Homo sapiens: one gene and its partner. The protein of the gene in region 1 purifies or fractionates together with the protein of each later gene. This does not show direct contact. Each region holds a gene or a part of one and is shown in the gene's direction. Other genes may lie near its edges. The genes, in order: MACC1 and FCHO2.

Region 1 (3,827 bases):
ATATATTTTAAACTTATAAACATCAATAGCTTTGTTCAAAGTTGAAGGAGTGTCTCTTTTTTTTAAACACAGCAGGCATGATTCTGGGATGTTTTAAGTCATATTTTGGTGAAAATAGAATAATATTTACCATCACCAGTTCACATACACTTTAAAGAAATTCTTGTAGCCAATCCTCTCCTAGAACGAGGCTTTATTTCTTGTGAGTAAATAACTAATCCTAGAGTGATAAATTAGAGACTGCCGGAACTTCAGAGTACCATTGGAAGTGTGTAATTTAACTTCCTTTTTTCACAATTAAAGATACAAAGACACATATTAGTTAAGTGGTTTATCCAAGGTCCTATAATTAGCCACTGAATTAGTTCTAAATCTCCCCTAACTCTGGCTTAGTTATGTCTACTGTAGTTTGCTTATAGAATTTGCTTAAATGTGAATCAACTCCTTGAGCTTTAGAAAACTCGATTATACGTGTAGTGAAAAAAAAGGACTCCCATTTGTAGAATATGTAATAAAAATTCCAATTTATAGAGAGAAAAGCCCAAGTTAGTTGCTTTTAATTGTGACATGTAATTGTTGCTGCAGGCTCTTCTGAAAATGGATTGCCAAGAGTTAGTCGCACGTCTCATCCAAGAAGCTGCTGTTCTGACTTCAGCTGTCAAGCTTGGAAAAGGCTGGAGGGAACTAGCTGAAAAGTTAGTACGACTCACAAAGCAACAAATGGAGGCATATGAAATTCCTCATCGAGGAAACACTGGAGATGTTGCTGTTGAGGTAAGACTTCTGTTTGTGTAATTCAATAGTGAAAAGTTGCAGACCAAGTAACACTAATGTAATCAAACCCATACCACATTCACGGATTCACTGGGGGAATGTCCAAGATGATCCACTAACTGAATCACTGCACTAGTAACTCATCAGTACTATCTGAAATAAACACACACACTCTTAAAAGGCATTGAGAGCCCTTAAAATATTGATGTTTCTTCTTTTGGATTTCATATTCTCATGGCCTTTGATCAATGAATTAATTGATCAAATTGGGCCAGTAAGTGGGGATGGCTATAAGAACTTGAGTCATAAAACAGGTAAATTTTGAAGGTGGGAGACAGGATCAAGTCAGGACAATAGAGGAAGACATAATGATATGTACTTATCGGCCTCAGGCATAAACTTAGTCACTTGCGATAACTAATGCTCAGGGACAAGAAGTAGTAAGAAAGTGGATGTAGAGCCACTGGTGATGAGAGATTGATAACTAAGAGCTTCATTATCTCCTTCACAATGTTGCCTACAGTAACTACAGGCATCAGTTGCAGAATGTTAGCACTTAGTACAAAGTAAATATTTACCATGAAAATATTGTTTTTATCAAAACAAATGTATGCTGTTAGGCACAAGTTAAACACATATTTTTCTCCAGATTACCATAAAGAACTGGGAGTCAATTTTTATTGAATTAAATAAATAAAAATATTCCAGTGAAGGGCACATGTAAAATATTCTGTATCTTTCTCTCAAATGAACAAGCATTTTGAAGATATTTATGTTTAAGGAAATCTTCTCTCTATTAGAGATGACTTGGTGAGAGCAGAAGCTGTATTCTTCACTTTGTTTTTGGCGTAGATCTGGGTATTAATTTTTGGAGAAAATTTTCTTGCTTCGATGCAACCATTCCAGTTGGGTGAACAGGACAAAACCACCTTTGCATGAAAAGTAGAGTCAAATCAAGTCAGCTGAATTCCAGCAGCTGCAGTGGAAGTGTCAGCAGGCTGGTTTCTGAGTTCCTGCAGCCTGGCTCTCCAGCCAGGACTTCTCCAAAATAAGACTCTTTAGCCAGGAGCAACCAGGGACTGAGGATGTCTTTCCCCTCAGAGACTACATTTATCTCCATAAACTTAGAAGGGCATTACAGCCTATAAATAAGCATAATATAGCATTTGGTGCAGTACACAAAATGGACTCAAGTGTTTACAGAATGAGATGAAAGATAGGAAGCCTTTAAGAAGGAAAAACAAATATTATGAGGGATACGCTCTTCTGATTCGGACATTTCAGTTAACTGATGAAAAAGTTGTCTAATTGAAAGCAGGACCTTTTTTTCTTAATAAGGTTCTGTTTTGAAAGAGTTTTGTTGAGAGTTATTTATCAGAGTTATTTATTCTGTCAGCCTCCTTAAGCATCTGGCTTCTCTCTAATTGTGGTTGTTTATAGTTTGTCTTCCCCTAAATCTTGATGGAGGCCAGCAAACCACCCACTTTTCCATTATTTACTTTTGCACAGCCCAAATCATAAATGACTAAGTCTTTGCCTGAGGCTGATAAACACTCAGAAGCAGAAAGGAAAGCCCCTAGGTGTCTTTCTATGATAGTTCAACTTATTGTGATTAATAGTAATAGTCATCACTCAGATTCATGTTATTAAATACTTAGAAAAATCCACAGTATATTGGCCTGAGGTCATTCCAAATAATATACAGAAATCTTACGTACGAGGTCACTTAACTAATGGGTAAATATATGCTAATTTCCAACCTCCTAAAAAATAGCTGTATAATTTTTCTCTTTGGGAGGAGATTCCTAAATATGATCAATTTACAATTCAAGTAGTTGATTTCAAAGCACACTGATATTAGTTCTGGGTAGGGGGTGCAGAGGGAGGGAAGTGCACTGGGGCAGGGAGATAATTAGGTCTAGCAGTTGCTGGGCCGCTTTTTTTCCTGTATGTCATTTCCTCAGAGGGCACACACTCCAAAAACTGCCTTCTATGTGTGCCAATGCCTGCAGTTGAGCTGTTTCGCTTACTTTCTCTCCTTTAACTTCTTTCTCTTCCCTTTGTTCTATTTTTATTGTATCTTAGGGAGAGTTATCTGGCACTGACTCCGTGACAGACACTGTTCTGGAAATATTACAAAAATTAATTAATGTAATCCTTTCAATAAAAACTCATGGGGCAGACACTAATATCTAAGATATGGAGAGGATAAGTAACTTGCTTAAACATACACAGCTGGAAAGTCCTGGAACCATGTTTAGAGCACAGACATTTGACTTCAGAGTCCATGACTTTAACCATTACACTCTGTCCATCACTGTTTAATATGGTGACTATGTTGCAGAGTCAGAAGGTGCGGCCAGGGTTAAGCAACTTGTTTCATTTTTTATTTGTCCTCTTTTCAGGCCATGTCAAGTAGCCATGATACTATCAAAAATTGCCTCAAAATTAAATCTTTACCAAGCCTCAAGCTGGTTAAAAAATGAAGTATATTAATAATAAATTTGTCAGATTTTCTGAACACCTTAACCATTTCTTAATTTTTTCTAAGGTGAAGAAAAAGCCTCTCTTTGGAAACTTTTGAGAATGTCACTTTTGAAATTAACCATCTCCTCAAGTTAAATTTTAAGAAATGTTACTCGACTTTTCTAATGACATGGTAATTACTACATAAAAGCAAAGCTGTAAAGCTTGGAATCTGATAATAAGCAAAGTATGTTTTTCAGAGTATTTCTTTCAGAAAAAATGCACTTACACTATACAAAGATGTCACTATTGCCAAGGTTCTTCCGTGAAAGTTAGTGAAAATTTATTGGCATTTTCTGAATATATTTAGAGTTTTAATTTTTTAAAAAAGGAATCAATAGCATATTAGAAAAATAGCTCACTTTTTAAATGTTGAATTTTACAAGGGGACATGCTGGGGATTCAGAGATAAGAAATTCACTGGCCTAAATTGGGTGCTCTTCACTTAGCCTTCTAGGGATGGTTACCACAAATGACAATACTTTTTCTATGGCTCCCTCATTGGCCCCCTTGCTTAACAATATAGA
Region 2 (3,827 bases), on another chromosome or scaffold:
TGAAGGTAATTTTATACAATATTTTAACTATTTTTCTTTTTCTTTCTTTTTTTTTTCTTTTTTTTTTTTGAGACGGAGTCTCACTCTGTCGCCCAGCTGGAGTGCAGTGGCACCATCTCGGCTCACTGCAACCTCTGCCTCCCGGGTTCACACCATTCTGCCTCAGCCTCCCGAGTAGCTGGGATTACAGGCGTGTGTCACCAAGCCCAGCTAATTTTTTTGTATTTTTAGTAGAGATGGGGTTTCACCGTGTTAGCCAGGATGGTCTCGATCTCCTGACCTCGTGATCCACCTGCCTCAGCCTCCCAAAGTGCTGGGATTACCGGCGTGAGCCACCGTGCCCGGCCTATTTTAACTATTTTTCTACATGAAACAAAGTTTTGACTGAATTTTGACCATGACCTGTCATGAGGTCAGGTGTGGAATTTTCTGCTTTTGGCATCATGTTGGTCCTCAAAAAATATATAGATTTTGGAGCATTTCTGATATTTTGATTAGGGATGTTTGTTTGTTTATTTATTTATTTGAGACAGAGTTTCGCTCTTGTTGCCCAGGCTGGAGTGCGGTGGCATGATCTTGGCTCACTGCAGCCTCCGCCTCCCGGATTCAAGCGATTCTCCTGCCTCAGCCTTCCAAGTAGCTGGGATTACAGGCACCCACCACCATGCTCAGCTAATTTTTGTATTTTTAGTACAGACGGGGTTTCACCATGTTAGCCAGGCTGGTCTTGAACTCCTGACCTCAGGTGATCTGCCAGCCTCGGCCTCCCAAAGTACTGGGATTACAGGCGTGAGCCACCGTGCCTGGCTGATTAGGGATGTTTAATCTGTACTGGAAATTGAACTTCTTTACCTTGCTGTTAAACTCACACATTGATATACTAATATTAACTTTTTTGGGTGAACAAAGTATTACTCTTGTAGTAATAGTATTTTAAAATGACAGAAGAACTTAAAGGAGCAGGAAAGAGTCACAGTACTATCAGCGAGAGGCAGTTACTGTTAATATTTCCTTTTTGTTAGAGAGCTGGTTTTTGTGCAAATTTGGTTGGGAAAGAGTTTGGAGATTAGTTTAGATATTCTGAGTTTGAGGTGGTTCACATATCTTAATTATGTTTGGGGCAGTTAGATATTGAACAGGTGGGTCAGTGCAAGAGTAGTGTGAAGATCTGGATTTAGACATTAGAAGCAGAAAGTTGGTTGGACCAATCAAAGTAAATGGAGGGATGATGGTGGTTGTAGAATGTTCCCCTATTAAGGGTAGCACACATTGAGAAGAGCCAGGCAAAAGGTAAAACTATAAGTTTTGTAGTGTTAAGAAGGCCAAACAGGCCGGGCGCAGTGGCTCATGCCTGTAATCCCAGCACTTTGGGAGGCTGAGTGGGGCGGATCACAAGGTCAGGAGTTTGAGACCAGCCTGACCAATATGGTGAAATCCTGTCTCTACTAAAAATACAAAAATTAGCTGGGTGTGGTGGCGGGTGCCTGTAGTCCCAGCTACTCGGGAGGCTGAGGCAGGAGAATCGCTTGAATCCGGGAGGCGGAGGTTGCAGTGAGCCAAGATTGCACCACTGTACTCCAGCCTGGGTGACAGAGCCATATTCCGTCTCAAAAAAAGAAGGCCATACAAAATGTGTATTCTGTATTTATAGGTTACATGTCTGTAGGATAATTTGTGTCTTTTAGAATTCTATATTTAATGGCTGTGGATGTTTTTTACGGAATAAAATCTCATATGCTAAACAGTAGTTATATAAAACACAGTTTTCTAGTGTGAAATATTTGCTAATATTTTAGATCTGATCACAAAATAAATTAAGCCATGAATGAAGTTCAGGATTTCAGACTTGATGATATATTTAGTTTTGTGCAAATGACTGTCATTAATCTCTTGTTCTATTAAATGTGCATCACAGTGTTGAAGAATAATAAAACTAAGTACAACAAAGAATTATTAAATACAAATGACACACTTATCACAGTGAACCAGCTTACAGAGACAGAGAGAATACAAGAAGTAGCACTCATGTATTTCCTGTTCAGATAAGCATTGGTACTAAAGATAAAAAGAGTTGTGATTCCATTAAAATTTTTTCTGTGGCTGAGCGTGGTGGCTCATGCCTATGATCTCAGCACTTTGGGAGGCCTAGGTGGGAGGATTGCTTGAGCCCTGGAATTCCAGATTAGCCTGGGCAACATAGCAAGGCCCCATCTCTACAAAAAAATACAAAACTTAGCTGGGTGTTGTGGGGCATGCTTGTAGTGTGAGCTACTCAGGAGGCTGAGGTGGGAGGATTGCTTAAGCCTAGGAGGTCAAAGCTGCAGTGAGCTATGATCATACCACTGTACTCCAGCCTGGGTGACAGAGCAAGACTGTTTTAAAAAAAAATTTGTGTGTGTGATATAAATTATTTTAGTTCTATACCAGAAAGGACATTTGAAGATAGGCCGGAAATTCATGACTACATATATGTACTTATTTTTAACATGTAATTTTTGAGGTATCTTTTTGTTTTGCACTTTTAATTGTATTTTGATAACTTTGCTGTTTTTGGTCACTAAATAAGAAGTATTATGATGTGGATATTTGATTTAACAGAGCTACCATAGAGGAGGCATACTCCAGGTCAATGACAAAACTAGCAAAATCTGCAAGCAATTATTCACAACTTGGGTGAGTTAATTTCTTCCTCTTTTTCAGTGTTTATTTAGGCAAAGTTCTTAAGGATTCTAGGTTCCTTTTGAGGACATAACAGTTCAAAAGCATAGTAAAATATATGCTTATTTAAAAGTATCTGTAAATATTAATATATTCTTCACTTGATAGAAAATATAATTGAACTTGCTGAATCAGTCAATGCAGTCAAAACTAAATGAAATTTATTTTTTCCCTTTTTAAAAACTAGTCATTCAATAGTGTTTGAGATTATAAATGTTATCTTATGCACATGCAATGTATTTATTCTAGTTGTCTGTAAGTTCCTATTTAAATTCTGTTGTAGTTTAACAGTGATCTTTAAAAACTCACTTAAGATAAACTTTATTGAAATGATTAAGATGCATTAAAAATGTCTCCTGTGATTTTATAGACTGTCATTAAATCTTCCTTTTAAAAATTTGTATTAAAAATGTGTTCCTTGAAAAATGAAAATAATGAAAAGAATACATTTAAAATGAGATGTGCTCATTGCCATAACAATTATGGAAAGAATAATTATCTAAAAATTGGGCTTTTGCATGTTTAAATTCACAGAAACTTTATTTTTGATGAAGTATTTTAAATGGAATACTTGTTTTAAATTGAAGTTTGATAATAGTTAATTTTTAACAATAGACAGTGATAGAAAGGCTTCTGATACAAGTATAAATACTAAATCAATTCAGAAATTAATATAATTAAGAGGGTTAAGACTTGTGATAATGTAATTAACCCATTTCTATATTCCTGAGGTCCAAAAATATTTTAAATAACCAATGACAAAAAAAATTCAAGGTCAGTCTGTCAATCATTTTATTCATTATTTTAATTTCATCTTTTGCCTAAATAAAGTTGCCATATATACCACTATTATTTCCACTGGTTCCTTGTTAGAACCTTAATTTTCTTTTTTACTTTTAATAAGTTATTCCCATATTTTTTATTTTCTTAGAACATTTGCACCAGTATGGGATGTATTCAAAACATCTACAGAGAAATTAGCAAATTGTCACTTGGATCTTGTTAGAAAATTACAAGAATTAATAAAGGAAGTTCAGAAGTATGGAGAAGAACAAGTAAAGTCTCATAAAAAGGTATCAGTTTTTTTCTTGTTAAATAATTGATTGGTC

Evidence for each region.
Region 2: the proteins of MACC1 (region 1) and FCHO2 purify together in Homo sapiens (affinity purification with mass spectrometry; one large-scale study listed by BioGRID and IntAct). This does not show direct contact.

What each region holds. Positions count from the first base shown.
Region 1 is NC_000007.14:20,151,140-20,154,966, reverse strand, and holds part of MACC1 (metastasis-associated in colon cancer protein 1), read left to right. Parts: intron 1-585; coding exon 586-774; intron 775-1,435; exon of another isoform or gene 1,436-1,703; intron 1,704-3,827. UniProt on the Homo sapiens protein: Acts as a transcription activator for MET and as a key regulator of HGF-MET signaling. Promotes cell motility, proliferation and hepatocyte growth factor (HGF)-dependent scattering in vitro and tumor growth and metastasis in vivo.
Region 2 is NC_000005.10:72,986,829-72,990,655, forward strand, and holds part of FCHO2 (F-BAR domain only protein 2), read left to right. Parts: intron 1-2,598; coding exon 2,599-2,673; intron 2,674-3,649; coding exon 3,650-3,791; intron 3,792-3,827. UniProt on the Homo sapiens protein: Functions in an early step of clathrin-mediated endocytosis. Has both a membrane binding/bending activity and the ability to recruit proteins essential to the formation of functional clathrin-coated pits.